Linked DNA regions of Homo sapiens. The protein of the gene in region 1 purifies or fractionates together with the protein of each later gene. This does not show direct contact. Each region holds a gene or a part of one and is shown on either strand. Other genes may lie near its edges.

Region 1 (11,534 bases):
GGCCTCAAGCAATCCGCCTGCCTGGGCCTCCCAAAGTGCTAGGATTACAGGTGTGAGCCACTGTGCCCGGCCACAAAGAGGTTCTAAGGAGAGCTTGATGTGTTCAAAAGGACCCAGACCTTTCAGCCGGATAAAACAGTGTTAGTCTCATACTGGCTTTGGGCAAATCACTTTATGTCCCTGAGCCTTAGTTTCTCCAAACCAAGAGGACTCTGGGGAGTATTGTTGGTGTTAAAGGAACTGACACATTCCACTACTAGCCTGGCTTGGTTGCCCGCTAACCAGAAACTTCTACCTTCAGTGCTGCCGTGAGTGAATGCTGTTCATTCCCTTAAATGTCCCTGAGCACTCACTATGTGCTAGGCACCCTGCAGGTGCAGGAGACACCGCCTTTGTGGAGCTGATGGTCTAGTAAAGGGGACAGACAGTGAGCACCGAACAGATACAGATCATCTGTGATTTTGTAATATCCAAACTACAGCATCAGGTGGTGCTATGAGGAACAGTCTAGATTCACACACAGAATGTTGGGGGTGCCATTTTGGACAGGGTGGTAAGGGAAGACTTCTCCACATTTGATGAGATGAAAACGGGGAAATGGGGGCAGCATTCCTGCCCAAGGGAGCAGGAGATGCAAAGGCTGCTGTTTCAGGAGCCTCAGGGGTGCTGGTGCAGCTGGGTGGAGTGCCTTGGGGGAGCTTGGGAGTAGCTGAGGTCTGAGGGAGCCGGGGGCCATGCTGGGCTTCACAGGTCCTGATGTGGCCTCTGGATTCCATTCTTCATGTGATGTGAAGCTTTCATGGGGAGCAGATTGAGTAGGGACCTGATGTGATGTGACTTTTGATTGGAGAAAAATCCCTCTTTTTTTTTTTTTTTTGAGACGGAGTCTCGCTCTGTTGCCCAGGCTGGAGTGCAGTGGCGCAATCTCAGCTCACTGCAAGCTCCGCCTCCCAGGTTCACGCCATTCTCCTGCCTCAGCCTCCCAAGTAGCTGGGACTACAGGCACCCACCACCACACCCAGCTAACTTTTTGTATTTTTTTTTTTAGTAGAGACGGGGTTTCACCGTGTTAGCCAGGATGGTCTCGATCTCCTGACCTCGTGATCTGCCAGCCTCGGCCTCCCAAAGTGCTGGGATTACAGGCGTGAGCCACCGTGCCCGGCCGAAAAATCCCTCTTTTGAGTTTGAGTGGTGAGAGTGGAAGCCTGGGACCTCCTAAGAGACTCCTAGAGTCATCCAGGTGCGAGAAGGTGTCTTGGCCATGGGGATGGCAGAAGAATGGTGGGAAGTATCAGATTCCAGTTGTGTTTTGGAGGAAGAGCTCATGTGATTTGCTGATGGATTGAATGTGAGGTGTGTGACAGAGGAAGAAGAGTCAAAAAGGACTCTTAAGGTTTTGGTTTAAACAACAGTGGTGCCATTTACGGGGTGAGGGAGCCCTGGAAGAGGGGCACCCTGGGGCAGGGGGAATCAAGAGTTTGATTTTGCCTGTACTGTTACTTAATTATAAAAAAGAAAATCAGGCTAGGCATGGTGGCTCATGCCTGGAATCCCAGCCCTTTGGGAGGCTGAGGCAGGAGGATCACTTGAGGCCAGGAGTTCCAGATCAGCTCGGGCAACATAGTGAGATTCAGTCTTTAAAAAAATTAGTGAGGCATGGTGGTATGTGCCTGTAGTACTTAGGAGACTTAATGGGGTGATTGCCTGAGCCCAGAAGTTTGAGGTTGTAGTGAGGCTATGATCCCCTCACTGCACTCCAGGCTGGGTGACACAGCAAGACCTGTTTAAAAAAAAAAAAAGAAAGTAAGCTTAAAATCAATTTTTTAAACTTCGACATGTCCTGAGCAATTATATCTGAGATCATAGGTGCTGCTATCTGTGTAATTTATCTAAAGGATGTTAAAATAAATACATAGCCACTAAAATAAAAAGGTCCATGGGGGTACCACCTATACCCATTGCATACACCCAGCTGCTGCCCTAGCACATTGGAAGTGCCAACAATGATTATTAGCCCCTTTAAGAATGAATGAGGAGCTCTTTAGGATGACGACATGGAGAACCTTCAATGAAAACTCCGGTGGGAGAAGTGGGGGCCAGGAGTGGAGCTGGTCTCAGAGAAGTGGGTCATCCGGAAGGTTGGAGGTGGTGGGGGCATTGGGGCCTTGGAAGCTTTTTGGAGAGAAAGGTCTGCTGCTCCCCTGCTCCGAGCCCTCTTCCTGGGGTTGTGAGTCTCCCTTTCTGAGCTTCCTTTTTGCTTCTAAGGAATGTGGGTGCTTTTACCACAAAAACACTTGGCCTTTTCATAGCATAATTTGGTATTCAAGCTGTGGCCTGAGCTTGGAACCATTCTTTGTCCATTTCTGCTGCCCAGGACTTTGAGATGAGTCTGTGTGGGTACTTTGTGAACTATTATGTGACATGGACACATATATACATGAGGAGTGAATGCTTACATCATGCACAGGGTGTTTGTAAAGGCCTTGTTGGGTTAAATACTGTTGGATCACTGTAGAAGCTTTTCATACCGAAACATTAATTTTGGAAACTCCTTCACAAAATCAAATCAAAATTAGGTCTTTTGAAACAGGCTTCTTAACGTATTCTTGTGAAATTTCTCATGAGCAGTTCATTTCTCAGACATGGAAGAGTTAAGTCCTGCGTTCGCTGTTGTGTGTGTTGCAGTGGCTCCGCGATGAGGCTGTGCTGAGTGAGAGACGCCCCCTTCTCAGCTTCTCGCAGACTCTTGCTCCCTGCGCTCCAGCGCCGCTCACGGCTGGTGCTGGCAGGCCTGGCATTTGGGGGCGTGGGAGAAAGTATGCATCAGTGTGTGCAGGGGTGGAGGGGTGGGTGGTTTGTGTGAATAGAAAGTACATGACCTTTCTGAAAATTGTTCAGAAATGTGGAGGAAGGAAGCGAGAGACTTGGCAGTCCTGTAGGCTTTAATGGAATCAGCAATGGACGCTCGGTATGGCTAATCCTCGATGGAGATGGAAAGGGACGGGAGAACACGATCCAAGCCTACTCAGCTGCAGCAGCGTGAGTCCGCTGGGGAACACGGAGAAGACCAGATACTCTCACTCCCACTTGGTAGAACCTCCTGAGGTTCTCCGGCCACTGTAGTGAACCAGTGTCTGGCGAGCGCCCGAATTACGTGAGAAACTGCCCATGTGTCATTGGATCTAAGACACCAATGTTTTAAGGACACGTCAGTGTTTTGTCTATTGCTCAGAAAGAGAACTCACAGCTAATTAACTTGTAACATACCAACTCCAGAGACGTTAACATGTGGAAAATGTAGGTCTTCAAATCAGTGAAATAAGGTAATCTAATTAACAATACCAGGCTATAGCACAATGGTTGCCACAGGGCCACTTTGGGAGGCCAAGGCGTGTGGATCACAAGGTCAGGAGTTCAAGACCAGCCTGGCCAAGATGGTGAAACCACGTCTCTACTAAAAATACAAAAAATTAGCCGGGCATGGTGGCACGCACCTGTAATCCCAGCTACTCCAGAGGCTGAGGCAGAGAATTGCTTAAACCTGGAGGGGCAGAGCTTGCAGTGAGCCAAGATCGCGCCACTGCACTCCAGCCTGGGCGACAGAGTGAGACTGTCACCAAAAAAAAAAAAAAAAAAAAAGGAATCATTTGAGTGAAAGATAGTTTCTTGAAGATGGTCAGTGGATGATTGAGGTTTGGGAATCATGGGCCTCTGGCCCTAGTTGGATTTGAGCAGTGCCTTTAGGGTAGATAGGACTTAAAAAGACAGAAAGGGACAGGCTTTGCCTTACCATGGGTACTTTTACATATGCTCTTTGGGTAATTTTTTTCTTACTCTTTCTTTATTTTTTTTTAATTTATTTTTTATTTTTGAGACGGAGTCTTGCTGTGTCGCCCAGGCTGGAGTGCAGTGGCGCCATCTCGGCTCACTGCAAGCTCTGCCTCCCGGGTTCACACCATTCTCCTGCCTCCGCCTCTGGAGTAGCTGGGACTACAGGCACCCACCACCACGCCCACCTAATTTTTTTGTATTTTTAGTAGAGACGGGGTTTCACCGTGTTAGCCAGGATGGTCTCAATCTCTTGACCTCATGATCTGCCCGCCTTGGCCTCCCAAAGTGCTGGGATTACAGGCGTGAGCCACTGCGCCCGGCCTCTGGTCACAGTTTTTTAGAGATTGTTTGGAACAGTGAGTAGAAGGCCTTGTCTGTACAAGATACACAGCTGAGTGAGATTGTTAATCTGTCAAAGGGCAAAATTCAAAACTTTCGACAGTCTGGAAGGCTGGGATGAATGCATTAAGATGTAATTCGACTGATATAAATTTAGATTTAAAACAACCTTCTATAGTAGTTTGGCTGGGGGAGACAGACATGGTAGAAACTCACAGGAAAAGGACTTTGTTATTTTACATTACATAGAGGCTAGATGCTCATCTTCTCTTGGGTATATGAAAGCTGTTGATTTGCATACTTTGATTTTCTATCCTGCCGCCTAACTGATTTCTTTTTCTGTTTGCATTAGTTTTTCATTGATTCTTTAGGGTTGCCAGGCGTACTGTCCTATCAACTGCAAATAGAAATGACTTCTTTCCCGGTTTTTATGCTCTCATTCTTTACTCTGTCTAACTGCCTGGGCTAACACCTCCAGTTCTGTGTGAAGTAATAGAGTGGGCAGCCTTGCTATGGCCCTGATCATTTGTTGTTGTTTTGTTTTTTTTTTTTGAGAGGGAGCCTCACTCTGTCTCCCAGGCTGGAGTGCAGTGGCGTGATCTCGGCTCACTGCACGCTCTGCCTCCCGGGTTCCAGCGATTCTCCTTCCTCAGCTTCCCGATAGTAGATGGGACTACAGGCGTCTGCCACCACGCCCGGCTAATTTTTTGTATTTTTAGTAGAGACGGGGTTTTGCTGTGTTAGCCAGGATGGTCTCGATCTCCTGACCTCGTGATTCGCCGGTCTCGGCCTCCTAAAGTGCTCAGATTGCAGGTGTGAGCCACCGTGCCCAGCCTAATTTTTTGTATTTTTAGTAGAGACGGGTTTTCACCATGTTAGCCAGGATGGTCTCAATCTCTTGACCTCGTGATCTGCCCGCCTCAGCCTCCCAAGGTGCTGGGATTACAGATGTGGGCCACCATGCCCAGCCCTATGGCCCTGATCTTAATGAAGTGTTCCCCACTGAGTAAGTTGCCAGCATTAGGGCTGAAGTATACAGAGTAGCATGTTCAGAAAGGAGCCATCAGTTTCTGTTTTCTGGAGTGTTTTTACCAAGAATGGACCAAGACTCCTTAGATAAACAATAGCACTAGTGTCCATACTTACTGACCCAAACACCATTTGCCAGTTTATAAAATAATAAATTCCAGAAATATTACTGCCTCAACATTATGAAAATCAGATTTCCTAAAAAAGTACTTAGCAGTGTTGAAATATCTAGACACTATTCACGGGTACTTAATGAACAAGGCACGTGCTCAGTAGATTGATTGCCGTCAGACACACAGTTTTTCTCATTTGGGAAAGTTAGTTATTCCCACATCAGCCAAATACAGCACAGCATACAGTGGTCAGTAGATCATCAGCTTACTCCTGGTCTCCTGTTGTGAAACGCTCTCAGATGAATTGTTCTTGTGCCATGACACACCAACGTGGCAAGTTCCTCAGTTGCCTGTTTGAGCTTGTTTCTTTCTTTACTTGTGGAAGACAATTTCACTGGCGTTTTTTGTTTTTGTTTTTGTTTTTTGAGACGGAGTCTCGCTCTGTCATCCAGGCTGGAGTGCAGTGGCGTGTGCGATCTCGGCTCTCTGCAACCTCCACCTCCTGGGTTCAAGCAATTCTTCTGCCTCAGCCTTCCGAGTAGCTGAGACTACAGGCGCTTGCCACCACACCCGGTTAATTTTTGTATTTTTAGTAGAGACAGGGTTTCACCATATTGGCCAGGCTGGTCTTGAACTCCTGACTTGGTGATCCACCCACCTCGGCCTCCCAAAGTGCTGGGATTACAGGATTGATCCACCGTGCCTGGCCTCACTGGCCTTTTTTAATAGTGTATGTCTAATGTGGAACAGACCCATAAGTTGCTTGGGTCTTATTTATTTGGCTGGGAAACTATGGATTTTTTTAGAAAGATTCAAGTCCTTGGAAGCCTGTGTCTGTCCCTTATGGGAATTAGATACTGGCAGAGGAGGTAACTGTGATTACAGCATCGAAGACAGGTTTTGCATTGTGGTGACACATTTGTGTTAATATTATTCATCTCATATGAGAGGATGAGTTCATCTTAATCTCATTTTTAATCACAGCCTTCTAGAAAATAGAAATATCTTTTCCTCCCATGCTTTAAAACACCTGTGGCACTTTGGGGTGCTAAATATTGACTTCTTTGGCCATCTTTTCAGGAGGAAGACATGGGATACTCCTGACTGGGTAGATGCTTTTGTATTTCTGCTTAACCTCATAATTAATTTCATTCCAGCTGGTGGCAGGAGACAGACTAGAAAAGGAGCTACCTTTGGAAGTATATTTGCCTGGTTATAGGAGACTTTTGTGAGCTCGCTGGAAATGAAAATATACTAAGCAGATCTAAGACATAGGGGATAATTGGCAACATTTATCAGTTACCTGAAGAATACTTAATTCACTGGTTATTAACTCATTCCCATGGCCCAGAGGCCTTGCACTGCCCTCCCCCCCAGGCACATACGTGCACACATATTTGCAAACACGGCATGGAGCGTCTTTCCCCTGTGCTCACTAGAGAGGCCACACCAGCCTTCTCGTGCTTCCGTAAACCTGACATGCTTTTTTCCATCTTAGGGTCTTTTTACGTTCCGCTCCCTCTGCCTGGAAGCCTCCTTCTCTGCCTTCTAGAAGGTCACTGCCCCATAGTCATTCAGGTCTGGCTCAGACGTCACCTCCCCAGAGAGGTCTGCTTTTCTGACCACTTCATCTAGAGGCCCCCACCGCCCATCACGCTGTGTCCCATTACCATGGTGTGTTTTCTTCCTAGCACGTAGCGCTGTCTGAGATTGCCTTATTATTGTATTGTGTGTTTGAATTCTCTCTCTCCCTAGAAGGGAGGCTTCAAATAAGGAGCCTCTCTGTTTTCTCTTCTGTGTCCGCAGTACCCAGAATACTGCCAGACTGTTGCAAATGCTCAGCAGATATTTATTGAAAGAATGTATGTAGTGATTTAATGTACTGTAATCACATAATATCATATGTGGGTCCGGAAGACCTAAGTTCCCATTTATGTTAAGAGAGGCATTAATTTTGCTTTAAAATGAAACAGTTCAAGATTAGAACTAGACCCAATTTTGTGTTACTGTGAAGCCGTTTTTCTTCTTCTTTTTGAGACTGAGTCTCACTCTGTCATCCAGGCTGGAGTGCAGTGGTGTGATCTCAGCTCACTGCAACCTCCACCTCCTGCATTCAAGTGATTCTCCTGCCTCAGCCTCCTGAGTAGTTGGAATTACAGGTGCGCACCACCACGCCTGGCTAATTTTTGTATTTTTAGTAGAGACAGGATTTTGCCACATTGCCCAGGCTAGTCTCAAACTCCTGACCTCAAGTGATCCACCTGCCTCAGCCTCCCCAAGTGCTGGGATTACAGGCGTGAGCCACTGTGCCAGGTCAGCAGTTTTTCTTTTGGCGTTGCTTGTACTGAAAGTGTTAAATTTAAGCCTGGTGTCATGAGGAGCTGAGCAGAATTGTTGCCATTTCTACTTTTTTTTTTTTTTAATTTAGTTGTGACATACTTGGCTCAGCTAGCACTTACTGCCATTTCATCTTCCTTTTTTTTTTCATTTCCATTAGTAGGGTTTGGTTATACTGTCTATTTTCAAAGGCTATTAGAAGGCGTTAGTAGCTTTTCAGACCTTGTAGTAAAATTGTGTTAATAAAAATAAATAAATAAAAGTCACCCAGTGAAGACATAAATAAGTGTAGAGACACACCATGTTAATGGATTAGAAGACTCAACATAGTGACAATGTCTACTTTCCCCAAATTGATCTGTAGATTTAAAGCAGTTCCAATAAAAATCCCAACAAGACTTGTGGATATAAGTAAGCTGATTCTAAAATTTATATGAAAAGGCAAAGGAACTCAAATAGCCAAAACAATTTTGAAAAAGAGCAAGAAGATAAGGAGACTCACACTAGCCAATTTAAAGACTTACTATAAAGCTACAGTAATCAAGAATGTAGTATTGGTGGAGGGGTAGACACATCGATCACAGGAACAGAATAGAGTCTAGAAGTAGACCCACACAATTCAATGGAGAAAAGCTAGTCTTTTCAACAAATGGTGTTGGAATGATTGGATATTGGAATGAAAAAAAAAATGGACCTAAACCTCCTTCCTACCTTACACAGAAATTAATTCAAAATGGATCACAGATCTAAATGTAAAATATAAAACTATAAAACTTTTAGAAAAAAACATAGGTGCTCTTTGTAACTTGGGACTGGACAGAGAGTTCTTAAACATGACTCCAAAAGCATGAACCATGAAAGAGAAAAAATGGATTAAATGGACTTCATCTAAACTAAAACCTTTGCTCTGCAAAAGACACTACTGAGTGAAATGCTAAGTTACAAATAAAAAGAACTCTCAGAACACAATAGTTAAGAAAATAACCTAATTTAAAAATAGGCAAAAAACTTGCACTTCACCAAAGAGGATGAGTTGGTGCCAAATAAACACGTGAAAGATACTCAGTGTCGTTAGCCGTTAGGAAGTGCAGATTAAAGTCACGATGAGCTACCACTACCCACCTCTTAGAATATCTAAATTCAGAAAAAGACAATACCACATGGTGGCAAGGACGTGGAGCAGCCGGAACTCAACATTGGAAATGCAAATGGTTCAGCTGCTCTGGAAAACAGTTTGGCAGGTTCTTATAAAGTTAAACATATACTTACCATATGAGCCAGCCCTGTCACTCCTAGGTATTTACCCTGGATAAATGAAAAGTTACATTCATACAAAAACCTGTACATGAATGTTTATAGCATATTTCTTCATAGTTATAAGAAACGAAACAGCCCAAATGTCCTTCAGTGGATGAATGGATAAACAAACTTTACTACATCCGAACAATGGTATATTACTCTATGAAAGAGAGAGAGAGACTGTTGATGCACACAGGCTAACAACTTGGATGAGTCTTAGAGACATAATGTTGAGTGAAAGAAGCCAGTCTCAGGAGGTCATGTTTACTGCATCATTTCATTTATGTGACATTGTGTGACATTGTTTTGTTTTGTTTTGTTTTGTTTGGAGACAGAGTCTCACTCCGTCGCCCAGGCTGGAGTGCAGTGGTGTGCAATCTCGGCTCATGGCAACCTCTGCCTCTCAGGTTCAGGTGATTCTCGTGCCTCAGCCTCTTGAGTAGCTGGAATTACAGGTGTGCGCCACCACGCCCGGCTGATTTTTGTATTTTCAGTAGAGACAGGGTTTCGCCACATTGGCCAGGCTGGTCTCAAATTCCTGGCCTCAAGTGATGAGCCCCTCTTGGCCTCCTAAAGTGCTGGGATTACAGGCGTGAGCCACTGCACCTGGCGTTTAATATGACATTCTTAAAAAGACAAAGCCATAGCAGTGGAAAATAGGTTGCCAGGGATTAGGGGAGGGAGTGCGTTGGGAGTGGAGCTGCCCTGTATCCTGAGAGTGGTGGTAGTTACACACATCTCTACATGTGTCAACATTCACAGATGTGCGTGCCCCAGAAGCCAGTTTTACTCCATGTTAATGTAAAAATAAAACAAACTCCCACACCCTGCAGAAGTTGCTCCAGGGTGCAAAATGTAGAGCTGAAGCACCAAAATAGATAAAAGCAGAATAAAACCAATTATATGAAAAAAAGTGAAGTCACTCCTGTCAGTATATAACTAAACAGAAGCTACAATTTGCCACAAAAGCTAACCACAGGCTTTTTATATATATGATTGCAAAAGCCTGTTGAAGTGGTTTCCACATCCTTTCTGGAAGACTTAACAATAACTTTTAAGAAGTTGCACACAGTATCTGTGTGTGTTTTATTTCTTTTACAGATGATTCACTGTTGGCATATAGAAATGCTACTGATTTTTGTATGTTGATTCCATATCCTGCAACTTTTTTTTTTTTTTTTTTTTTTGAGATGGAGTCTTTTTTTGAGATGGAGTCTCGCTCTGTCACCCAGGCTGGAGTGCAGTTGCACGATCTCGGCTCACTGCAAGCTCCGCCTCCCGGGTTCATGCCATTCTCCTGCCTCAGCCTCCAGAGTAGCTGGGACTACAGGCGCCCGCCACCACACCCGGCTAGTTTTTTGTATTTTTAGTAGAGATAGGGTTTCACCATGTTAGCCAGGATGGTCTCGATCTTCTGACCTCATGATCCACCTGCCTCAGCCTCCCAAAGTGCTGGGATTACAGGCTTGAGCCACCGCGCCCGGCCCATATCCTGCCACTTTACTGAATTTGTTTAATCAGTTCTAATAGTTTTTTGGTGGAATCTAGGTTTTTCCAAATATAAGATTATATCGTCTGCAAACAAGGATCATTTAACATCTTCCTTGCCAGTTTGGATGCCCTCTATTTCTTTCTCTTATCTGGTTGCTCTAGCTTGTGTTTGTTTAATATTTCAATAAAGCTTTCAATACAATTTTTTTTTTTTTGAGACAGAATCTCACTCTTGTCGCCCAGGCTAGAGTGCAGTGGCATGATCTCAGCTCGCTGCAACCTCCGACTCCTGGGTTTAAGCGATTCTCCTGCCTCAGCCTCCCCAGTAGCTGGGATTACAGGCATGCACCACCATGCCTGGCTAATTTTTTTGTGTTTTTAACAGAGACAGAGATGGGGTTTCACCAGGTTGGCTAGGCCGGTCTCAAATTTCTGACATCAAATGGTCCACCCACCTCAGCTTCCCAAAGTGCTGGGATTACGGGCGTGAGCCACTGCACCCAGCCAATACAAATTTTATTTTCCTTGAAATTGAACTGTGGTTCTCCCAGTTATTCCAGTTTGCTGTAGTTCTGCATGGTGGTTCTGGGAGTGCCGTTGTGAACAAAGCGCAGTTTTCAGGTGGGAGGCCAGATTTGGGGCAAGCTTTCAGGGAGAGGCAGGGAATTGCACCTGGGCCTTGCATCAAAGTTGTTCCTGGGGCTTAAAAAGTACAGATGCTCAGGATGTACCCTAGGGAGATCTGGGAAATTCAGAAATTGTGTTTAGGCCGGGGATGGGGCCAGGGCCTGGACCGCTGTGTGAGCGTGTTTAAAGCTCTGCAGTGATTATGCTGAACAGCCTGGTTTGAGATCCTATGGGGTAGAATGGGCATTGCAGACAGGCAGGGATGCTGGAATCAGGGTGCCGTTGGGGTACATGAGAGGGCCATCAGCCAGTCCTGGGTAGGGTCATCCTGAAGGAAGACCTCCTGGAGGTGGTGACTCCTGAGCCAAAGAGTCCCGAAGGACCCGGAGAATTGGTAGGGAAGAAGAGGGAGGGTGTTCATGTGGAGGCAAAGAGCAGGGGATGGACAGGGCTGTAGGCATTTGGGAC
Region 2 (8,262 bases), about 21 Mb from region 1:
GGTGCCGGACTCTCCCTGGGCCCCCCTGTTCTCTCACCAGCCACATCCATTCTCCCCCTAGAGGCGCTAGTGACTGTGCGTGGCTTTCCATTCCCACCACGTTTGTCTCTAACCCCAGTGGCAGATCAGTGTAAGAACACAGCTGAGTGCTCCTCGCCTCCTTGCCCCTTCAAGGGCCCCTCACCACCCACCAGATCAGGTGCAAACTTCCAAGTCTTACTGGATCCCCTTCCACATTCTGAGCTCCGCCTGCCTTCCCATCGCTATCCTTCCCCACCTGCCTCCCTGGTAGAGAAAAGCGGAGTGTGTGATGCTGTCTGAATGCTGAGCACGGCCTTTTGCAGCCAGTCCACTGTGTACGCTGCCCCTATCGGAGACCTCCACCTTAACCCTTTCCAGCCTGGAGGCTCCTCCCAGGGCCCCACAACAGAAGTGACTTCCCTTGCCTTTGAATTTCTATAGCACAATCCCTACTGCCCCCCGTTAAAACTGCAAAGTCCTTTTGTGGAAAATAACTTTATTCATGACTGTGTTTATCACACTATCTTATGGAGAAGAGATGATCAATAAATATTTGCTGAATAAATGAATAGCAGTTACAAAACACTTGATTCATATGGAATTAATGTTGGTTCTCAAAGTGAAAAATTACAAACAGCACTGATATTCAGCCAGTATACAAGTCTGGTCACAGCAGTTGTATAATACTGAAATACCCCCTGCCACTGACCTTTGGCCCCCAGATGCCTCCCACTGCCACTGCTCTCCCCACTGGGAACCCCTGAAGTTCCCACAGGCTCATAACTAAAGGGCTAATGTCTTGCACAGCAGCGAGCACCCAGGACCGAGCAGCCACATGGCCGGGTCTGCTGGTGAAAGCATCCATTCTGACTGATCAGGACCTGAGGGGCCTCATGGTTACATATTTTGATAATATCCCTAATTATAAATAAGGCTCAGTTATATAGTTTGAAAACAATGCTTCTCCTCATTGCAAAATCTCTTAGAAGACTCCGTAGATCCAGGAACGGAAATGGAAAATGACAGCGTGTCAATCTCTGAAGGTTTTGGGCATTTCCATTAGCACTCCATCTTCATGTAAACCAGAAGATATGCAGTTTCCTGCCTAGAGAGAAGAGAAGACACATCAGCACAGCGGCATGAAACCTTCATCAGAAAACAATGCTTCATTAATCCGTGACAGGACAAGCGTCAGCAAACTTCCAGGCGGCTGGATTAGGCCTTCATCTATCCATCACCTTGGAGAGGAACAAAATAGGTGGCCTGGGAAGATAAGCACTATGTTTCTATTAGTTAATATCTAAAGCGGAGGTTAACAAGCTATGGACACACAAGCCAAACCCAGCCCTCTTGGGGTTTTTTAAATCTACTTTCAACTTTTATTTTAGATTCAGCGGGCACATGTGCAGGTTTGTCACGTGGATATGAGCATACTCCCCAACAGTTGGCCTTTCACCCCTCCCCTCCCTCCCCATCCAGCAGTTCCCAGTTGTTGCCATCTTTAAGTCAATGAGTCCCCATGTTTAGCTCCCATTTATAAGAGAGAACATGCATTATGTTTTGTTTGGTTTTTGCTGGTTTTTTTTTTTTTTTTTTTAATGGAGTCTTGCCCTGTAGCCCAGGCTAGAGTGCAGTGGCACAATCTTGGCTCACTGCAACCTCCGCCTCCCAGGTTCAAACGATTCTCCCTCCTCAGCCTCCCGAGTGGCTGGGACTACAGGCGCCCGCCACCACGCCCGGCTAACTTTTTGTATTTTTAGTAGAGACAGGGTTTCACCGTGTTAGCCAGGATGGTCTCAATCTCCTGACCTCATGATCTGCCCACCTCAGTCTCCCAAAGTGCAGGGATTACAGGCGTGAGCCACCGTGCCCAGCCTTTTGTTTATTTTTTGACGAGACCGTTCTTGCTCTGTCACCAGGCTGGAGTGCACTGGCACAATAATAGCTCACCACAGCCTCGTGCTCCTGGGCTCAACTGACCCTCCTGCCTCAGTTTTAGCTTCCTGAGTAGCTAGGACTATGGATGTGTACCACCATGCCTAGCTATAATAATTTTTATTTTTTTGTAGAGATGGAGTCTTGCTTTGTTGCCCAGGCTGGTCTTGAACTCCTGGCTTGAAGTGATCCTCCTGCCTCGGCCTCCCAAATTGCCGGGATTAAAGGTGGGAGATCGCACCCAGTCTCCAACCCTCTTTTTGCAAGTAAATGTAACTGGACCCCAGCCATGCTCATCTGCCCATGTACTGTCTACGGCTGCTTTTGCTCTACAGGGCAGAGTTAAGTGGTTGCAACAGACACCGCACAGACCACAAAGTCTGAAGTACTTTCTCTCCAGCCCTTTACAGAGAAAGTCTGCCAACCTCTGATCTCAATAACAGGGAAATCAATGACAACCACAAAGTGACAAAGATTGGGTGTCTAAGATGGATGTTCAGAATAAACAAGAGAGAAAGATGAAAAGTAGAAGGAGGATTTCAAACGCAAGCTTCACCTAATCCATTATTTTTCAAATGACCAGGCCTATCTCTGTAGCTGAAAATCACCTCAAATAGGATCTCTGATATACAGTCTCCAAAAGCTCAGCTAAGAAACTTACAAAGTCTCTCTGCCTTAACTTCATCCACCTTTTTTCTCTCCAGCTTCTCCTCGGTAGTTAATGATTATAAAAATATTTATTGGCTCATGCCTGTAATCCCAGCACTTTGAGAGGCCGAGGTGGGCGGATCACGAGGTCAGGAGATCGAGACCATCCTGGCTAACACGGTGAAACCCCATCTCTACTAAAAATACAAAAAATTAGCCAGGCGTGGTGGCGGGCGCCTGTAATCCCAGCTACTCAGGAGGCTGAGGCAGGAGAATGGCATGAACCCACGAGGCAGAGCTTGCAATGAGCTGAGATCCTGCTACTGCACTCCAGCCTGGGTGACAGAGCAAGACTCCATCTCAAAACAAACAAACAAACAAACAAAAAAACAGTGTGATGGCCAGGCGCAGTGTTCATGCCTATAATCCAAGCACTTTGGCAGGCTGAAATGGATGGATGGCTTGAGCCCAGCAGTTTGAGACAAGCCTGGCAACATAGCGAGACCTCATCTCTACAAACATTTTTTTAAAATATGCCAAGCATGGTGTACAGACTGTATGCCTGTAGTCCCAGCTATTCAGGAGGCTGAGGTGGGAGGATCACCTGTGCCCAGGAGTTCAAGGCTGCAGTGAGCTATGATCACACCACAGTGCTCCAGCCTGGGCAACAAAGCAAGACTCCATCTCTAAAAATAAAATTAAATTAAAAAAAAGATCTTCGCTGTAAAAGAGGTATGCTCAAATGCAATAAAAGCATATAAGAAGGCCAGGTGTGGTGGCTCATGCCTGTAATCCCAGCACTTTGGGAGGCTGAGGCAGGTGGATCATGAGGTCAAGAGACTGAGACCATCCTGGCCAACATGGTGAAACACCGTCTCTACTAAAAATACAAAAAACAATCAGCTGGGCGTGGTGGCACACACCTGTAGTCCCAGCTACTCAGGAGGCTGAGGCAGGAGAATCGCTTGAACCTGGGAGGAGGAGCCAAGTGTAGTAGCCAAGATTGTGCCACTACACTCCAGCCCGGCAACAGAGCGAGACTCCGTCAAAAAAAAAAAAAGAAAAGAAAAGAAAAGAAAACCATACAAGAAGCCCCTACGAATCTGGGTGAATCAGCAAAGGCTTCACAGGATAGGAAAAGGCCATGAGTATGAAAACATGAGTGGGGAGTTGGCCTAGATGGTAAACGAGGAGAGGACAATACGGCCAGGAAGTGCATGTGCACAGCAGACGGGAGATGGAGGGCACGGCTGATTGGCAGCTACCTGTACTTTAATATTCCTGGAGTGTGACGTGTGAGGCAAACATGGGGTGGTGGGGTGAGTGCTGGAGATGAGGCGGACAGTGAGCCATCAGCATGTTAGTAACAGGGGAATCCATGGGCGTTTCATGCAGCTCCAAGGACCCTATGTGAGCTCATCAGACTCCAATTACCCAAATCTGTTTCTTACCAGTGGTAGTTAGGATTTCCGTAGGTACACTGGATGTCTTCCCAGGACACCTGGAAGCCAGAAACAAATGGGGTCAAGCAGCCAGCTGACACAAGCACCCACAGAGGACAGGATGCTATAATGTGCCCCTCATCCTCCAGACAAGCCCACCCCTAGCAACTCCCAAGAGCCTGGAGCAACAGCAGCAGGATGTCTTGTGCAATGAAGTATGTTTAGTGCCCTTGTCCCTGTGTTTAAACTTGGTCATGCTTATCCCAGAGGCCTAACTTACATATTTCTAACACTCGTTGCTCTCTAGACATTTCCCACAAAGCAGGAAGCTGCAGAGCATGAGCCTAGAGCACCAAAAACTTAGAAGTGAAGTGAATTGAACCCTTACAGAGGTGCAAACCACATGGGGACTTCAGACCGAAAAAGGCTTGAACCCTCATCAAAGGCCCCACACCCAGACAGCAGGATCACAGTGTGTCTTGATCTCAGAGACCCACGCAGCCCTGAGCCCAGCATTTGCTAGAGGTGGCCAATCCAGGGCAGGAGGCAATTGTGGATGATGTTTCTTACCAAGCAAATATTGGAGTCATTGAAGCAGAACCATTTTCCATCCACAGCATTCCGGATGTAGACACAGTAATGACCGGAGTCTGCCATTCCCACGTGCGCAATCACAGCAAAAAGCTCATACTGCCCTCCAGACTGGAAAGAGACAGGCACGAGACAGTTCACCCACCACCACAAACACGACTGCCTCACACATTTATACCTGCCCACACTAGGCCCGACTCTGGGACTTTAGAATATTAGAAAACAGTCCCGACCCACAGCCAGTGGGCACCCTCCAGGAGGGGCTTTCCCGAGTGTGGATCCTGAACTGCGAAGGCTCAGCAGCTTGGCAGGGCAGAGCACGCAAGAGATGGAAGGCAGGTCATGAGAGAGGCCCCCAAAGCCAAGGCAAGATTAGAACTTTCCCCTGGGAGGGGTGGGGATCATCAGAACACAGTTCTGTTTCTCCACAAGCCCAGGAATGACCCTAACCTGAGCCACCGTACCCAGCCAAAAAAGTCTTTTGTAGGGGGAGGGGAGACAGAGGGCAAGGGCGGCAGACGCAAAGCTGAGTCACCCACAGTGGAGGCTGAAATTATCCCTATTTCCATTTGCAGACTTTGTGCAGAACTTTACAAAATGCAGGGCAATATCTGTATCTAAATATTAGTTTACAAGAAATAAAAGGGTTACAGGAACATGTTAAAAGATATCAACCAGCCAGTGCTGGCATATGAAAAAAATATTCAACCAAATCAACTGCAAGGAAAAGAAAAGGAGCGGAAATCTAAAAGGAACTCAAGAAAAGAAAGAAACTTAACCAAATGCAAGTGTAGGCGTTGTTTGGATCTAGAGTCAAACAAACCACATAGATTACACAACAGTCAGGAAGTCTGAACGTTGACCAGATATTTGATGCTATTAAGGAATTGCAAGATGGAGATGATTATCTTTTGAGTGCTTATTCTTTAGGGATACATAATGAAGTGTTTATAAATGAAATAGTATGATGTCTGGGATTTGCTTCAAAAAAATCCAGTACAGGGTTGGGTGAAACAAGAGGGTGGGTTATAGGAAAAGCAAGACCTGCCATGAGTTTTGGTAACTGTTACAGCCAAGGATTCACTGTCTAACTCTTCCTTCACTACACACTTTGGTATCTATTTGTAATGTTCCATAACAAAGTCTTTTTTGTTGTTGTTGCAAAGATGGAGTCTTGCTTTGTTGTCCAGCTGGGCTCGACTCCTGGACTCCAGCAATCCTCTTGGCCTCCCAAAGAGCTGAGATTACAGGCGTGACCCACTGCATCCAGTCAAAAAAGTCTTTTTTAAGTGAAAAACAATTTTAAATACACTTCATTGGGCAGAATCTGCAGGTAGAAATAAAAAGAACTAGAAGGAAAGAAAAAGAGAATCCTATGAAATGTATACGGCCTAAGTAGGTAAAGAAATCATGTTATAATAGGAGCTATTGTAACATATTATCAGGTCTTAATTTTCTAAATGTCATGGTTCTAGAGCATAAATAGCCAAACAGACCAATAAAACAGAAGAGACACTCCAAAAATAGACCCGTACATACAGGAATACAAAATTTGTTATGTAGCATTTCAAATCTATGGAAAAAAAGATATTTGTGTCTTTTTTTTTTAGTTTTTCTTGTTTTGTTTTTAGAGACGGGGTCTTGCGCTGTTGCCCAGGCTGGAGTACAATGATAGATCATAGCTCACTGCAGCCTCAAACTCCTGGGCTCAAGTGATCCTCCAACTCAGCCTCCCAAGTAGCTGGGACTAAAGGTTTGTGCTACCACACCCAGCTAATTTTTTTTTTTTTTTTTGAGAGACGGGGGTCTCATTATGTTGCTGAAGCTGGTCTCGAACTCCTGGGCTCAAGCAATCCTCCTGCCTCAGCCTTTTGAGGTGTGGGATCACAGGCATGAGCCACATCACCTGGCCTTGTGTCTCTTTTTTTCTCAGAATCTCTTGATAAGTTATTATCTCAGGACAAGTGAATTAAACTTTACTCTGATTAAATGTGGTCCAGTCAACTGGCTACTTTATGATTATCCTCAAAGTGGGCACAGGCCATCTGAGGAAGAAAGTTTGGTTGGTACTATGAACCCACAATGACATGTTTGCCTATGCATTTCTATGTATTCCACATTATTTCCAAAGAAGCCTACTGAATTCTGGATTCTGTCCCTCAGTGCTGTGAGGCATATGAACACAAATCCAATATTTAGAAAGAAGAAAGGCTTTTGAGGCTGGGGACAGTCTCTGAGGAACAGGTGGCTCCTAGCAGACTGGGGGTGAAGGAAGGGAAAACAGAAAGGACATGGCATCTGGGGAGAGGCAGGATGGCAAGGAGGTCGGGATCATCCCACCTGCTCCTCAGCATCACAAGACTCTCGCTTCATTGGAAGGATCTGGCTGAAATCCAAGCTCTGGGGGAAGTACAGGGAGTGGCAGATCTTTCTCGTCTGTGAATTCCTGATGGAGAATCGCATGAGGTGGATTGTCAGGGTCTGGGGCAAATGGGTCAGCTTCAAGACCTGAAAAATCAAAATCACTCTGGAGATGAAGTCTACTTGGAATGAGAGAGTCAGAGAAATGTCAGGGCTAGCAACGCGTTCTTCCCAAAAAGAGGGGAGCGGGGCGACATCACGGAGTTCAAGGCTCCTGTTCGCCGAATCTGCTGAGCTCCTCTGAGAATAATGCAAAACTTGGCTATTCTACCACCATGTGGCCCCCCACAAGAGGCACAAGGGCACAGGGCTCTGCACAGGTACCAGGACCCAGGGAGCCACCGCGTCTGCTCCAGGGAGCTGGTCTCGCCTGGAGGGAAACGCCCTGCCGGCTGCTCTCAGGCGCCCTCCTGCAGTCCCTCTCAGTGATGCGACATGAGAAGCCACATCCACGGCTCCAGATATCAGAACCACAGCGTCCCAGATACTAGCCAGACCCAGATTCCCTTTCTCACCCACCATGGGGTGTCCTCGGGGCCTCTGATGATTCTATCAGGAAATCCACGGGGGGCAACCCCAGACTAGTGAAGGACAGATGACCCCTGAACAGCACGGGTTTGGACTGTATGGGTCCGCTTATACACAAATTGTTGTAAATAAATACAGTCTGCCCTCCCCCATAGGCACGAGTTCCACATCTGCAACCAAATGCTCATCAAAAATAAAGTATCCCAGATGCACAACCGCATAGATGAGGGACTGACTTTTCCTATACGTGGGTTCCACAGGGCCGACTGGGTGTGACTTGAGTGTGTGTGGATTTTGGTAAAAGCAGGGGTCCTGGAACAAATCCCCCATATGCACCGAGGGACAGCTGAGTCTGATTTAGGGAATGAGTACCTGTTTCCCACGGGTCTTCTTCCCACAGTTCTCACAGAAGCACTTGCTTTTGCTTGATAACTCCCTGGGCTGGAAGAAGCAGTGCAGGGCGTCCTCCTGTCCCACCCAAGAGAACAGGGAAAAAGCAGCGTTGGTATTTCCCACCTAGAATACTATATTCATCTGTTCTCACACTGCTGTGAGACAATAGCTGAGACTGGGTAATTTATAAGAAAAGAAGTTTGATTGGCCCATGGTTCTGCAGGCCAACCGGAAGCATGGCAGCATCTGCTTCTAGGGAGGCCGCAGGAAGCTCCCAATCATG
Region 3 (11,612 bases), on another chromosome or scaffold:
CCAATCTTTGTATAAAATCTGTAAAATCTGTATCAGTCAGGATTCTCCAGAGAAACAAGACAATATTTACATCTTTCTTTTTTATTTCTAAGAATACAAAAGGGTTTTTTTTTTAAAGCAATTGGCTCATGTGATTGTGCAGGCTGTTAAGTCTAAAATCCTTGGGACAAACTGGTGGGCTGGATATGGGGTAGGAAAGGATGTTGCAGTCTGAGTCTCTCATATGTAGGGTAGGTTAGGAACTCAGGAAGGATTTCTGTGTTACACAGACTTGAGGCAGAATTTTTTTCTTTGGGAAACCTGAGTCTTTTATCTTAAGGCCTTCAACTGGATGGATGAGGCCCAGCTACCTTATCAAGGTTAATCTCCTTTACTTAAAGGCAACTTGTAGGGACAAGAGTGACTTTTTATTTTTATTTTTTATTTTTTTTGAGATGGAGTCTTGCTCTGTCGCCCAGGCTGGAGTGCAGTGGTGTGATCCCAGCTCACTGCAACGTCAGCCTACCTGGTTCAAGTGATTCCTGTGCCTCAAGCCTCCTGAGTAGGTGAGATTACAGGTGCCCGCCATCGCACCCGGCTAATTTTTGTATTTTTATTAGAGACGGGGTTCCACCATGTTGGCCAGGCTGGTCTTTAACTCCTGACCTCACGTGATCTGCCTGCCTCGGCCTCCCAAAGTGTTGGGATTACAGGCGTGAGCCACCGCCCCTGGCCAATTTAAAACGCCAATCTACCATGTAAGTTCCCACTAACCCTGAGTTTGAGAATGCCTCCAAAATGTCTAGTTGATGTATTACTCTTTATGTAGGAAGAGCTATTTATTGTAAGTTGCCTCCAAAACCACCTTTGTTGTTGCAGAAATCACAGGCTGTGATACCCACAGCCACCTATACATTCCTTCCAGAGCACGTATGCATTTTTCCCAAGCTGTGTGTCTGGGGGGTTGTGGAGTGGAGATCTACCTGTCTTGCAGCCACTCAAGACCGCAAGACCCAAGACTTCTGTCTGTAAGTTCCCCTAATAAGTCAATAAATATAATCCCCTAATAAATCCCCCAAAATATAATCCCCTAATAAATCATCCAAAACTGACCAACTGGATTTGTCTGCCTCTTTCTTTGGTTTCTCAGCTCCTTCGGCAGTTGGGGGTCGCTTTGTATATATTAATACGACCCTTTCACGGAACACAACTGATTGCAGATGTTAATCCCATCTACAAGATACCTTTATAGCAACATCTAGACTAGTGTTTGAGCAAAGAACTGGGCTTCATAGCCTAACCATGGTGACACATAAAATTAATCATCACACCAACCTATGCTGTTAGGAAGGAGGTCGGTAGTTACTGCTTGGGGAGGGGTGTAAAGACCAGAAGGGACCACAGGAGAGCTTTAAGGGTGTGAGTCATGCTCCCTTTTTCGAGGTGATGATGGCTGCACAGATGTGTTCAGTTTGTGAAAATCCAGTGAGCTGTGTACACTTGTGATACGTGTACATTTTGGAATCTATATTATACTTCATTAAAAAGCAAAATGTTAAGGACAAAGGCAGTAAGACAAAAAGCAATGGAAATAAGAAAAAAAGCCTTACATCAGATATGGAGACTTTAGAAATTGCAAGACATTAACATATATAACTCTATATTAATAAGTTTAAATATTTCAGTGAAATGGCTGATTATTTATTTATTTGAGACAGTGTCTCACTCTGTCGCCCAGGCTGGAGTGCAGTGGCACGATTTCAGCTCACTGCAACCTCTGCCTCCTGGGCTCAAGTGATCCTCTTCCTGCCTCAGCCTCTTGAGTAGCTGAAATACAGGCGTGCACCACCACACCTGGCTAATTTGTTTTCTGTAGAGACGAGGGCTCACTATGTTGCCCAGGCTGGTCTTGAACTCCTGAGCTCAAGCAATGCTTCTACTTCGGCCTCACAAAGTGCTGAGATTACAGGCATGAGCCACCATGCCCAGCACAAAATGGCTGATTTTTTAAAGGAAGATATAAATGATCAAAATTGTCTTGACAAAAGGTAAAAAATCTGAAGAGGCCATGAATAAAATAATTTTAAAAGGTAGTTAAAATTAACTATACCTATCATCACCCAAGGCATGAGGCTGATAAAATTTTGTGAACGTCATCTACAAAATCTTCACGGAATCTTCTACAAAATCTTCATAGGAATCTTTCAGTTCCTATGCTATTTAAACTGGCGCAGAGCAGGAAAAAAAATGTGAAAGCTTCTTAACTCATTGTAGGTTATTTATTTATTTATATTTTTGAGATGGAGTCTCGCTCTGTTGCCCAGGCTGGAGTGCAGCGGTGCAATCTCAGCTTACTGCAACCTCTGCCTCCAGGGTTAGAGCGATTCTCCTGCCTCAGCCTCCTGAGTAGCTGAGATTACAGGCGCTCACCAACACGCCCAGCTAATTTTTGTATTTTTAGTAGAAACGGGGTTTCACCATGTTGGCCAGGCTGGTCTTGAACTCCTGACCTCAAGTGATCTGCCCGCCTCAGCCTCCCAAAATGTTGGGATTACAGGTGTGAGCTGCCACGCCCAGCCTTCACTGTAGGTCGTATTCTTTCCAGAATATGAACTGGAAACCTCCAAGCTTGTTTTTCCAGACTCTTATTAGCTCTCTATTTCTAGTTAGGTTCTGAATTGAGAGACAGTAGGGGATTCAGATGCAGGAGGAAGAAGACCTTTTCTCCAATTTGTGGAGGCAGCTCACATAGCTGAGTAGTGGTGGTGGTGGCAATGGGTGAGCCTGGCTTCCTGCTCGGGGGTGATGTGAACAGCAGCAGTAGCAGCAGCACTCAGCCCTAGCTCCAGCAGTACTAGCAGAGGCTCCAGGAACCTCAGCTGTTCAGAGCTTGTGGGCTCCCATGGCTGTTACTCTGTTGGACGCCTGCAGTGTAAGCTGGAGTATTGGCTCCTGGCTTTCTGCCTGCTGGTGGTAAAGGTGCCAATGTCAGCAGCCTCAGAGTCAATGATGGTAGCACTGGGTAAAACTATTTTCCCTTTCACGCTCCCAGCCCAGAGTTTCCCGTAGTTACTAGTCTCTGGGTAATCTCACATGTTCCCTTTTTGCTCTTAATTAACCCCTTGGATATATATGTAACCAGTTTCCTGTGTTAAATTCTCTCTCTCTTTTTTTTTTTTTTTTGAGATAGTGTCTCCCTGCGTTGCCCAGGATGGAGTCCTGTGGCACAATCTCGGTTCCACCACCACTCCTGGGGCATTTTTTTGTATTTTTATTTTGTATTTTTAGTAGAGAAGCGGGTCTCGCCACGTTGCCCAGGCTGGTCTTGAACTCCTGAGCTCAGATAATCTGCCCGTCTCGGCCTCCCAAAGTGCTGGATTACAGGGTAATTTAGCCACCAGGCCTGGCTGACACGACCACTTTGGAAGACAGTTTGTAAGTTTCTTATAAAACCAGGCCAGGCACAGTGGCTCATGCCTGTAATCCAAGCACTTTGGGAGGCCAAGGCAAGAGGATCGCTTGAGCCCAAGAGTTTGAGACCAGCCTGCTCAACATGGTGAAACCCCATCTCTGCAAAAAACAGAAAAATTAGCTGGGTGTGGTGGCACTGTGCCTGTAGTCCCAGCTGCTCGGGAGGCTGAGGTGGGAGGATCATCTGAACCCAGGGAATTTAAAGCTGCAGTGAGCCACGATTGTCTGCCATGACAGAGTGAGACCCTGTCTCAAAAAACAAAACAAAACCCCAAAAAACAAAACTAAACTTACTCTTACAATATGATCCAGCAATCATGCTTCTTGGTATCTACCCAAAGGAGTTGCGAACATGTCCACACAAAAACCTGTACACAGATGTTTGTAGGAGCTTTATTGATAATTGCCCAAACACAGAAACAACCAGAATGCCCTTTAGTTGGGGAATGAATAAACACTGTTACAGCCTGACAATGGAATATTATTCAGCACTAAAAAGAAATGAACTCTCAAGACAAGACATGGAGAAAGCTTAAATGCATATTACTATAAGGAAAGAAGCCAATCTGAAAAGGCTAGCCACTCCAAGATTCCCATTATATGCCATTCTGGAAAAGTCAAAACCATGCAGTCAGTGGAAAGATCAGCGGTTGCCAGGTGTTGTCGGAAGAAAGGGATGAACAGGAGCACTAAGGATTTTCAGGGCAGTCAAACTATTCCGCGTGATACTATAATGGTGGATCCATGTCATTATATATTTGCCAAAACCCACAGAATAAAACACCAAGAGTGAACCCTAATGCAAACTCTGAATTTTGGGTGATAATGATGTGTCAATGTAGGTTCACTGATCATAACAAAGGTACCACTTTGGTATGGGATGTTGACAGTGGAGGATGCTGTGCATGTGTGACAGTAGGGGTACATACGGGAACTCTATTTTCTGCTCAATTTTGCTGTGAACCTGAAAGTGTTCTAAAAACTAAAGTCTATTTTAAAAAATCCACTGTTTCACCTAATTCAACACTTCACTCCCACTCTGATAATCTCTGGCAACCAATGATCTGTTTACTGTCTGTATTTAAATTTAATTAAAACAATTTTTAAACTGTTTTGATATTTTTATAATAATCAATATATTTTGATTGGACTTTTATAGTGAGCACTTTCTTTGGAAATGAGTGTCTTTGACCTTCAAAAAAGTTATAGTTGTTATCAGTTATCATAAGAGGTGGGGCCCACCTCTTAAAGTAGCAATAAAATCTTATTTATGGTTGAAAAAGGTCAGGTCATTGCGCCACTTCTCTTTGCAGGTTTCTGTGCAATCCATCAGGGGACAGCTGGGACTAATCATTTAAAAAACTTTCCAGCCTGCTAATTTTACCATACCTCACATTTTTGTCATTCCTGGCCAAAATCCAAAGGGCAAGTCCCTTCTGCAGCCTCATTTTTTTTTTTTCTGTACTTTCGCTCCCCTGACGCAAGCTTCCACTGTCTCCCATCCTAACTTTACCACTACGCCCTCTAGAATGCCTTTTCCTGATAAGCAAAACCCCCCGAGTCGTTGGCTCCTCCACTTTCCGGTTTTGGCAGAATCCTTGATCTGAGCCAGGCCTCTTCCCAGGGGCTCTGGCCCTCTTCACTTCCTTTTCCCCGGAGGACTCTGGCTCCCGGGTAGCAAGCAGCCCACTTCCCCGGCCGCTTCCTTCCCCCGGGATGACACGTTTCTACAGGCGGACTCTTCTAATTCATACTATTTCCCTACCCCCGTGGTGGCTCCTAGCACCCCCAGGCCTGTTCTACCTGTAAAATCTTGACACATTTAAACTACTACTTCTGATCCTTTCCTCCCCGTCCAGCCTTCGCTCTTAGGCTGCCGAGCCTGGACTGCTTGTCATCCCCTCAGGCGTCTCCCCGGCCCTCCCTGCTCTTCAGCCGTCCCGACGGAGCGCGGCTCCTGACCAAACCCACGGTTCGTCTTCTCCACCTGCTCCGCGCGCCTCGCATGTGTCTGGGGGGAAACACATCCAAACGTCGACTTAAATGATTCAGGGCCGAGGACCGTGAGAGGCAGTCTTCACTTTTTCATCTTTCTTCATTTGCACAGTATACCAATAAGCTCTTACTACTTCTCAGCACAGGTAACTCGCCTTTTGCAGAGCACCCTCCGCCGCCGAACGGTCAGAGCCTGGAGGAACCCGCACCAGGATCGTAGGGCATGACGGGCCGGGGGCGGGACGAGGATTGACGAGCCGGGAACAGGGCGGGGCTTGAGGGGGCGGGAGGGTGGGGCGAGGCATGACGGCTCTGGTGGGAGGGTAGGCGGGGCTTGACGGGCCTGGGGGCGGGGCGGGGCTTGAGGGACCGGAAGGTGGGGCGAGTCATGACGGGCCGGGGCGTGGGCAGGGCTTGAGGGGCCAGGGGACTGTGTGGGGCCTGACGGGCCGGTGGGTGGGGCGGGGCTTGAAGGACCGGAGGGTGTGTGGGCGGGGCTTGATAGGCAGGGGCGGTGCGGGGGCGTGGGCAGCACAAGCCGTGCGCTCCCGGGCTGCGAGGTCTGGCTAGGCTACGGGCCACGCGCCGCCGCCGCTGCCGCCGCCACTGTCCTCTTCGGAGGCGCGGGCCCGACGGAAACCATGTTTGTGGCTCGCAGCATCGCGGCGGACCACAAGGATCTCATCCACGATGTCTCTTTCGACTTCCACGGGCGGCGGATGGCAACCTGCTCCAGCGATCAGAGCGTTAAGGTGCGCGCGGCGCTTGCGGGCGGGGCCGACCCCGGAAGGAAGGAAGGGGAGTGGGTGGGCGGCGCGGGGAACGGGGCTGTGTCTTGGTTCAGTGACGCCGCTGGAAGCTGTGGGGTGGCGGGCGAGCCCTGGCTGGACTGAGCGGAAGCCCTCCCCGCCCGCGTATTGTGGGGTCACGGCGGCCTCGCGGGCCGCCCTCCCGTGCGCCTGCGCAGCTGGTGCCACGTGCGCGCTCCCGCCCGCAGGGTACGCCGGGCCCTCTCCCAGGCCGCGCTGCCGGGGCTGCGGGCGGGAACCCAGGGGCATCCCACCGTCAGCCTCGGCGTCGTGGGTCTTGCCCGCGCTGTTCACCCGACGACCTGCAGTGGGACCTGGTGGGAGACTTTGCCTGGCTGGCGCTGCGTCGAGTTCTGTGCCCCGCCGGTGTTCTCTCACCAGGGCACATGGTTTTCTCCGTGGGTTCAGAGCAGAAGCTCACTTTGTTACGCCGAGGAAGAAAAATACAAACCATTTACATCCAATGATTTCCCTGCTTGCTGCCCAGGAATCGGAGGGTTTGTTTCTTGAAGTTCCCGTAAACGTCTGTAGACACTTCCGACAAGCAGAATTTCTTTTCTTTTTTTTTTTTTTTTTTTGAGACCGAGTCTCACTCTGTCACCCAGGCTGGAGTGCAATGGCACGATCTCGGCTCACTGCAACGTCCGCCTCCCGCTTTCAGGCGATTATCCTGCCCCAGCCTCCCAAGTAGCAGGGATTACAGGTGCACGCCACCACCCCCGGCTAATCTTTTTTTTTTTTTGTATTTTTTAGTAGAGACAGAGTTTCACCATGTGGGCCAGGCTGGTCTCGAACTCCTGACCTCGTGATCCACCCGCCTCGGCGCCTCGGCCTCCCAAAGTGCTGGGATTACAGGCGTGAGCCACCGCGCCCGGCCTACAAGCAGAATTTCTAATGTGGGGATGCTACATGAGATTTAGGAACCTCCCAGATGTGTTGCAGGATGAATGAAAGCTGGAGTGCGGATTATTTGGTTCTCGACAACTCCAGAGTAACTGGAAATCTGAAGGATAGTTTATCCTTTTTCACATTCGAGTTTGATACCAGTGATCTCTCAAAGATAAACTTTTTATAAATAGTGTTGCAATTTTTAAAAGATGTAGTTTCTTTTTTAAAACAAGTTTATTTTTGTTGTAATAAACTACGTTAACCGTTTTTTTTTTTTTTTTTTTTTTTTTTTTGAGACGGAGTCTTGCTCTGTCACCCAGGCTGGAGTGGGGTGGCGCAATCTTGGCTCACTGCAAGCTCCGCCTCCCGGGTTCACGCCATTCTCCTGCCTCAGCCTCCCAAGTAGCTGGGACTACAGGCGCCCGCCACCACGCCCGGCTAATTTTTTGTATTTTTTAGTAGAGACAGGGTTTCACCATGTTAGCCAGGATGGTCTCTATCTCCTGACCTCGTGATCCGCCCACCTCGGCCTCCCAAAGTGCTAGGATTACGGGCGTGAGCCACCGCGCCCGGCCCACGTTAACCGTTTTAAAGTGTAGAATTCAGTGGCATAGAGCACAGCATTCACATTTTTGTGCAGCGTCGCCCCTGCCCATCTCCAGAACCTTTTCATCATCCTAAACTGAAACTCTGTACCCAAGAGCACCCTGTTCCGCCACCCCATCCTCTGGTAACCTCTATTCTACTGCTTTCTATTAATTTGCATATTCTAGGTACCTCAGATAAATAGAATCATAGAATATTCGCCCTTTTATATTTGGTTTATTTCACTTAGTATAATTTTTTTTTTCTTTTTTCTTTTTCCTTTTTTTTTGAGGCAGAGTCTGGCTCTGTCACCCAGGCTGGAGTGCAGTGGTGCGATCTTGGCTTGTTGCAGCCTCAACATCCCAGGTTCAAGCCATCCTCCCACCTTAGCCTCTCCAGTAGCTGGGACTACGAGTGCACGCCACCACGCCTGGCCAATTAAAACATTTTTTTTGTAGAGGCAGGGTCTTGCTGCGTTGCCCAGGCTAGTCTCGAACTCCTGAGCTCAAGTGATCCTCTCACCTCAGCCTCCCAGAGTGCTGGGATTACAGGTGTGAGTCACCTTGCCCAGCCCTCTTAGGTCCATTTATTCCAGAGTACTTTTTTTTTAAAGGAGGAGCCATGTATTTATTTGTATATATTTTTAATTGAGCAAGTAATATATTTTTCTTTTTAGAAAGTGAAAAAATTATAGACTTATTGCTAATGTGTTAATATTTATTGATTTCCTCTGTTTTTCCTTTAACGTTTTAAGTTGTCATGGTAGAGTGTGTGTATATACGTATATGTCTTGTCAGAAATAGTGTTGTACTGAAATTTTTCATTAGTTTAGCATTTTATGTATTTTGAATGATTTTCTTAGGCTAATTCTAGAAGATAAATTAGTGGATATTTTAAACACTATTGAAGAGAATTGACAAATTGCTATTTTGCAGGTCGTACCGTTTTATACCGCCAGTGATAGTATTGATTTGATAGTGTTATTGCCCTCGTTACATTTTTAACAGGTGAAATTGGCACCTTCTTATTGTAATCTATATTTTTTCTGGGTAATAAGGTTTAATTTTTTTGTTTTGAGATGGAGTCTTGCCATGTTGCCCAGGCTGGAGTGCAGTGGCTATTCACGGGCGTGATCATAGCCTTAAACTCCTGGGCTCAAGTAATCCCTCCTGCCTCAGCCTCTTGAGTAGCTGGGACTACAGGTGTGCACCACCATGCCTGGTTTCAATATTTTTGCTTTACCATTTGTTACATGTACAGTTGAGCCTGTTGTTTGTAGATTCTGTATTTTTTGAATTTGTCTACTCTGAAATTTACTTGTACCCCAAAAGTCACACTGGTTTTGCAGTCATTTGTGCATGTGTGAGGAGTGGTGAAAAAGTTTGAGTCTCAGGACAGACGTTTCCCATTGAGGTGAAACCAGGCGATACTCTATTTTGGCTCATACTGTAAGCAGGTGTTTTTCATGATTTATTTAGTGCAATGATTATTTGTTCTTTCTGTTGGTGATTTTGCTGTTTAAAATGGCCTCCAAGCGTAGTGACTGTAACTAATTGTCTCTGTTACCTAATAGAGCTCAGCTTCCTGAATCCCTTGGTGCTTGGCCCAGTGCTTGACACATTCAAGGTTCTCAATGTAAATTTTTTGAGACGGAGTCTTGCTTTGTCTCCCAGGCTGGAGTGCAGTGGCGTGATGTCAGCTCACTGCGACCTCCGCCTCTGGGGTTCAAACGATTGTCTTGCCTCAGCCTCCCTAGTAGCTGGGACTATAGGCATGCGGCACCATGCCTGGCTAATTTTTGTATTTTTAGTAGAGACGGGGTTTCACCACGTTGTCTAGGCTGGTCTCGAACTCCTGACCTCAGGTGATCCGTTTGCCTTGGCCTCCCAAAGTGCTGGGATTACAGGCATGAGCCATCGCACCCAGCCTCTCAATAAATACTTAATTGAATGAATGAATGTTTACTTGCTGATTGTGTTCTTTTGTTAACTATATGTTCACCGCTTTCCTTGTACACTGATTCAGTCTTATAGTTTTTGTATCAATTTGTAGGAATTTTTGTATAAAATATCTGCCTTTTATTTTCTTATAGGTCTGGGATAAAAGTGAAAGTGGTGATTGGCATTGTACTGCTAGCTGGAAGGTTAGTATTTATTTTTACATTTATTAAAAATACAGAAATATTTACTGTTTATTTTATAGTTATCTATGAATTGTTTTGAGAAAATAACATTTATACAGTAGTTCTTTTCCTGGGAAGACATTTTACTGTTTTTCGCTATTAAAGTAACAACTGTGTTTCTCAGAATTTGAGAGTAAGAAAATCTGTAATTCTGTAGCATTCTAACATAATTATCTTAGTAATTCAGAATATTCCTTTTGCCTTTACATATTTTAATTGTTGTGATGTTTCATACATAGTTTTCTCTTAAAAAAAAAAAACAAAACCTTTACTCAAGTAGAAATTTTCTTTTTTTTTTTTTTTTGAGACGGAGAGTCTTGCTCTCTTGCCCAGGTGGGAGTGCAGTGGCGTGATCTTGGCTCACTGCAACCTCCGCCTGTTGGGTTCAAGTGATTCTTCTGCCTCAGCCTCCCAAGTAGCTGGGACTGTAGGCGTGCACCACGATGCCCGGCTAATTTTTGTGTTTTTAGCAGAGATGGGGTTTCGCCATGTTGGCCAGGCTGGTCTCAAACTCCTGACCTCAGGTGATCCTCCCTCGGCCTCCCAAAGTGCTGGGTTTATAGGCATGAGCCACTGTGCCCGGCCAAGTAGAAATTTTCATACCTTAAAAGTCATCCATTTTAAATGTACAGTTCAGTGAGTTTTAGTAAACTTACATAGTTGTGTAGTCATCACTGTAATCCAGTTTTAGAACTTTTCTCTCAAACTCAGAAATTCCTTTGTATCCTATTCCCACTCCAAGCCCCAGGCAACCACTGATCCATTTTCTGTCTCCATAGGTTTCTTCTCTCCTCTGCCCTCCCTCTCCCCTCCCCTCCCACCCTCTCTTCTCTTCTTTTCTTTTTTTTTTTTTTTGAGCTGGCGTCTTGCTCTGTCGCCCAGGCTGGAGTGCAGTGGTGCGATGTTGGCTCGTTGCAACCTCTGCCTCCTGGGTTCAAGCGATTCTCCTGCCTCAGCCTCCTGAGTAGCTGGGATTACAGGCGCATGCCACCACACCCGGCTAATTTTTGTAGTTTTGGTAGAGACAGGGTTTCACTATGTTGACCAGGCTGGTCTCGAACTCCTGACCTCAAGTGATCCGCCCGCCTTGGCCTTCCAAAGTGCTGGGATTACAGGCTTGAGCCACCATGCCTGGCCTGGTTTATCCTTTCTAGAAATTTCATAGAAATGGAATTTTGAAATACATAGTCCTTTGTGTCTGGCCACTTTCCCTTTGCATGTTTTGAGGTTCATCCATATTGTGTCATGTGTCAATTTGTTCCTTTGATACTGAGTAGTCCGTTGTATGTATATTGCCACGTTTTGTTTGTCTGTTCACCAGTTGACGGACATTTGAGTTGTTGTTTTTGGCTGTTATGAGTAATGTTAAGAACGTGCCATGTAAGTCTGTGTAGACATATATTTTCATTTCTTTTGGATAGATGCGTAGGAGTGGAATTGATGGGCTATATGCACTTAGCTTTCTAAGAAACTGCGAAACTCTTCCAAAGTGGCTGTGCCCACCAGCCATGTGTGAGGTTCCAGTTTCTCTACATCCTCACCTACACTCGATAATATCTGTCTTTTTTATTATAGCCATTTTAGTAGTTGAGAAGTGACCACAAAAATCATTGGATTTTGATTTGTATTTCCTTAATACCTCATGTTGATTATTTTTTCATATGCTTATTTACCATTCATGTATCTTCTTTTGTGAAAGGTCT

Evidence for each region.
Region 2: the proteins of TAB1 (region 1) and USP18 purify together in Homo sapiens (affinity purification with western blotting; 2 studies listed by BioGRID). This does not show direct contact.
Region 3: the proteins of TAB1 (region 1) and SEH1L purify together in Homo sapiens (co-immunoprecipitation; 2 studies listed by BioGRID and IntAct, with this or other methods). This does not show direct contact.

Annotation. Positions count from the first base shown.
Region 1 is NC_000022.11:39,402,780-39,414,313, forward strand, and holds part of TAB1 (TGF-beta-activated kinase 1 and MAP3K7-binding protein 1), read left to right. Parts: intron 1-11,534. UniProt on the Homo sapiens protein: Key adapter protein that plays an essential role in JNK and NF-kappa-B activation and proinflammatory cytokines production in response to stimulation with TLRs and cytokines.
Region 2 is NC_000022.11:18,169,636-18,177,897, reverse strand, and holds the end of USP18 (ubl carboxyl-terminal hydrolase 18), read right to left. Parts: intron 8,055-8,262; coding exon 7,959-8,054; intron 7,146-7,958; coding exon 6,978-7,145; intron 4,749-6,977; coding exon 4,617-4,748; intron 4,106-4,616; coding exon 4,056-4,105; intron 1,127-4,055; coding exon 1,081-1,126; 3' UTR 501-1,080; downstream 1-500. UniProt on the Homo sapiens protein: Interferon-induced ISG15-specific protease that plays a crucial role for maintaining a proper balance of ISG15-conjugated proteins in cells. Regulates protein ISGylation by efficiently cleaving ISG15 conjugates linked via isopeptide bonds.
Region 3 is NC_000018.10:12,942,036-12,953,647, forward strand, and holds the start of SEH1L (nucleoporin SEH1), read left to right. Parts: upstream 1-5,975; 5' UTR 5,976-6,086; coding exon 6,087-6,197; intron 6,198-9,819; coding exon 9,820-9,870; intron 9,871-11,612. UniProt on the Homo sapiens protein: Component of the Nup107-160 subcomplex of the nuclear pore complex (NPC). The Nup107-160 subcomplex is required for the assembly of a functional NPC.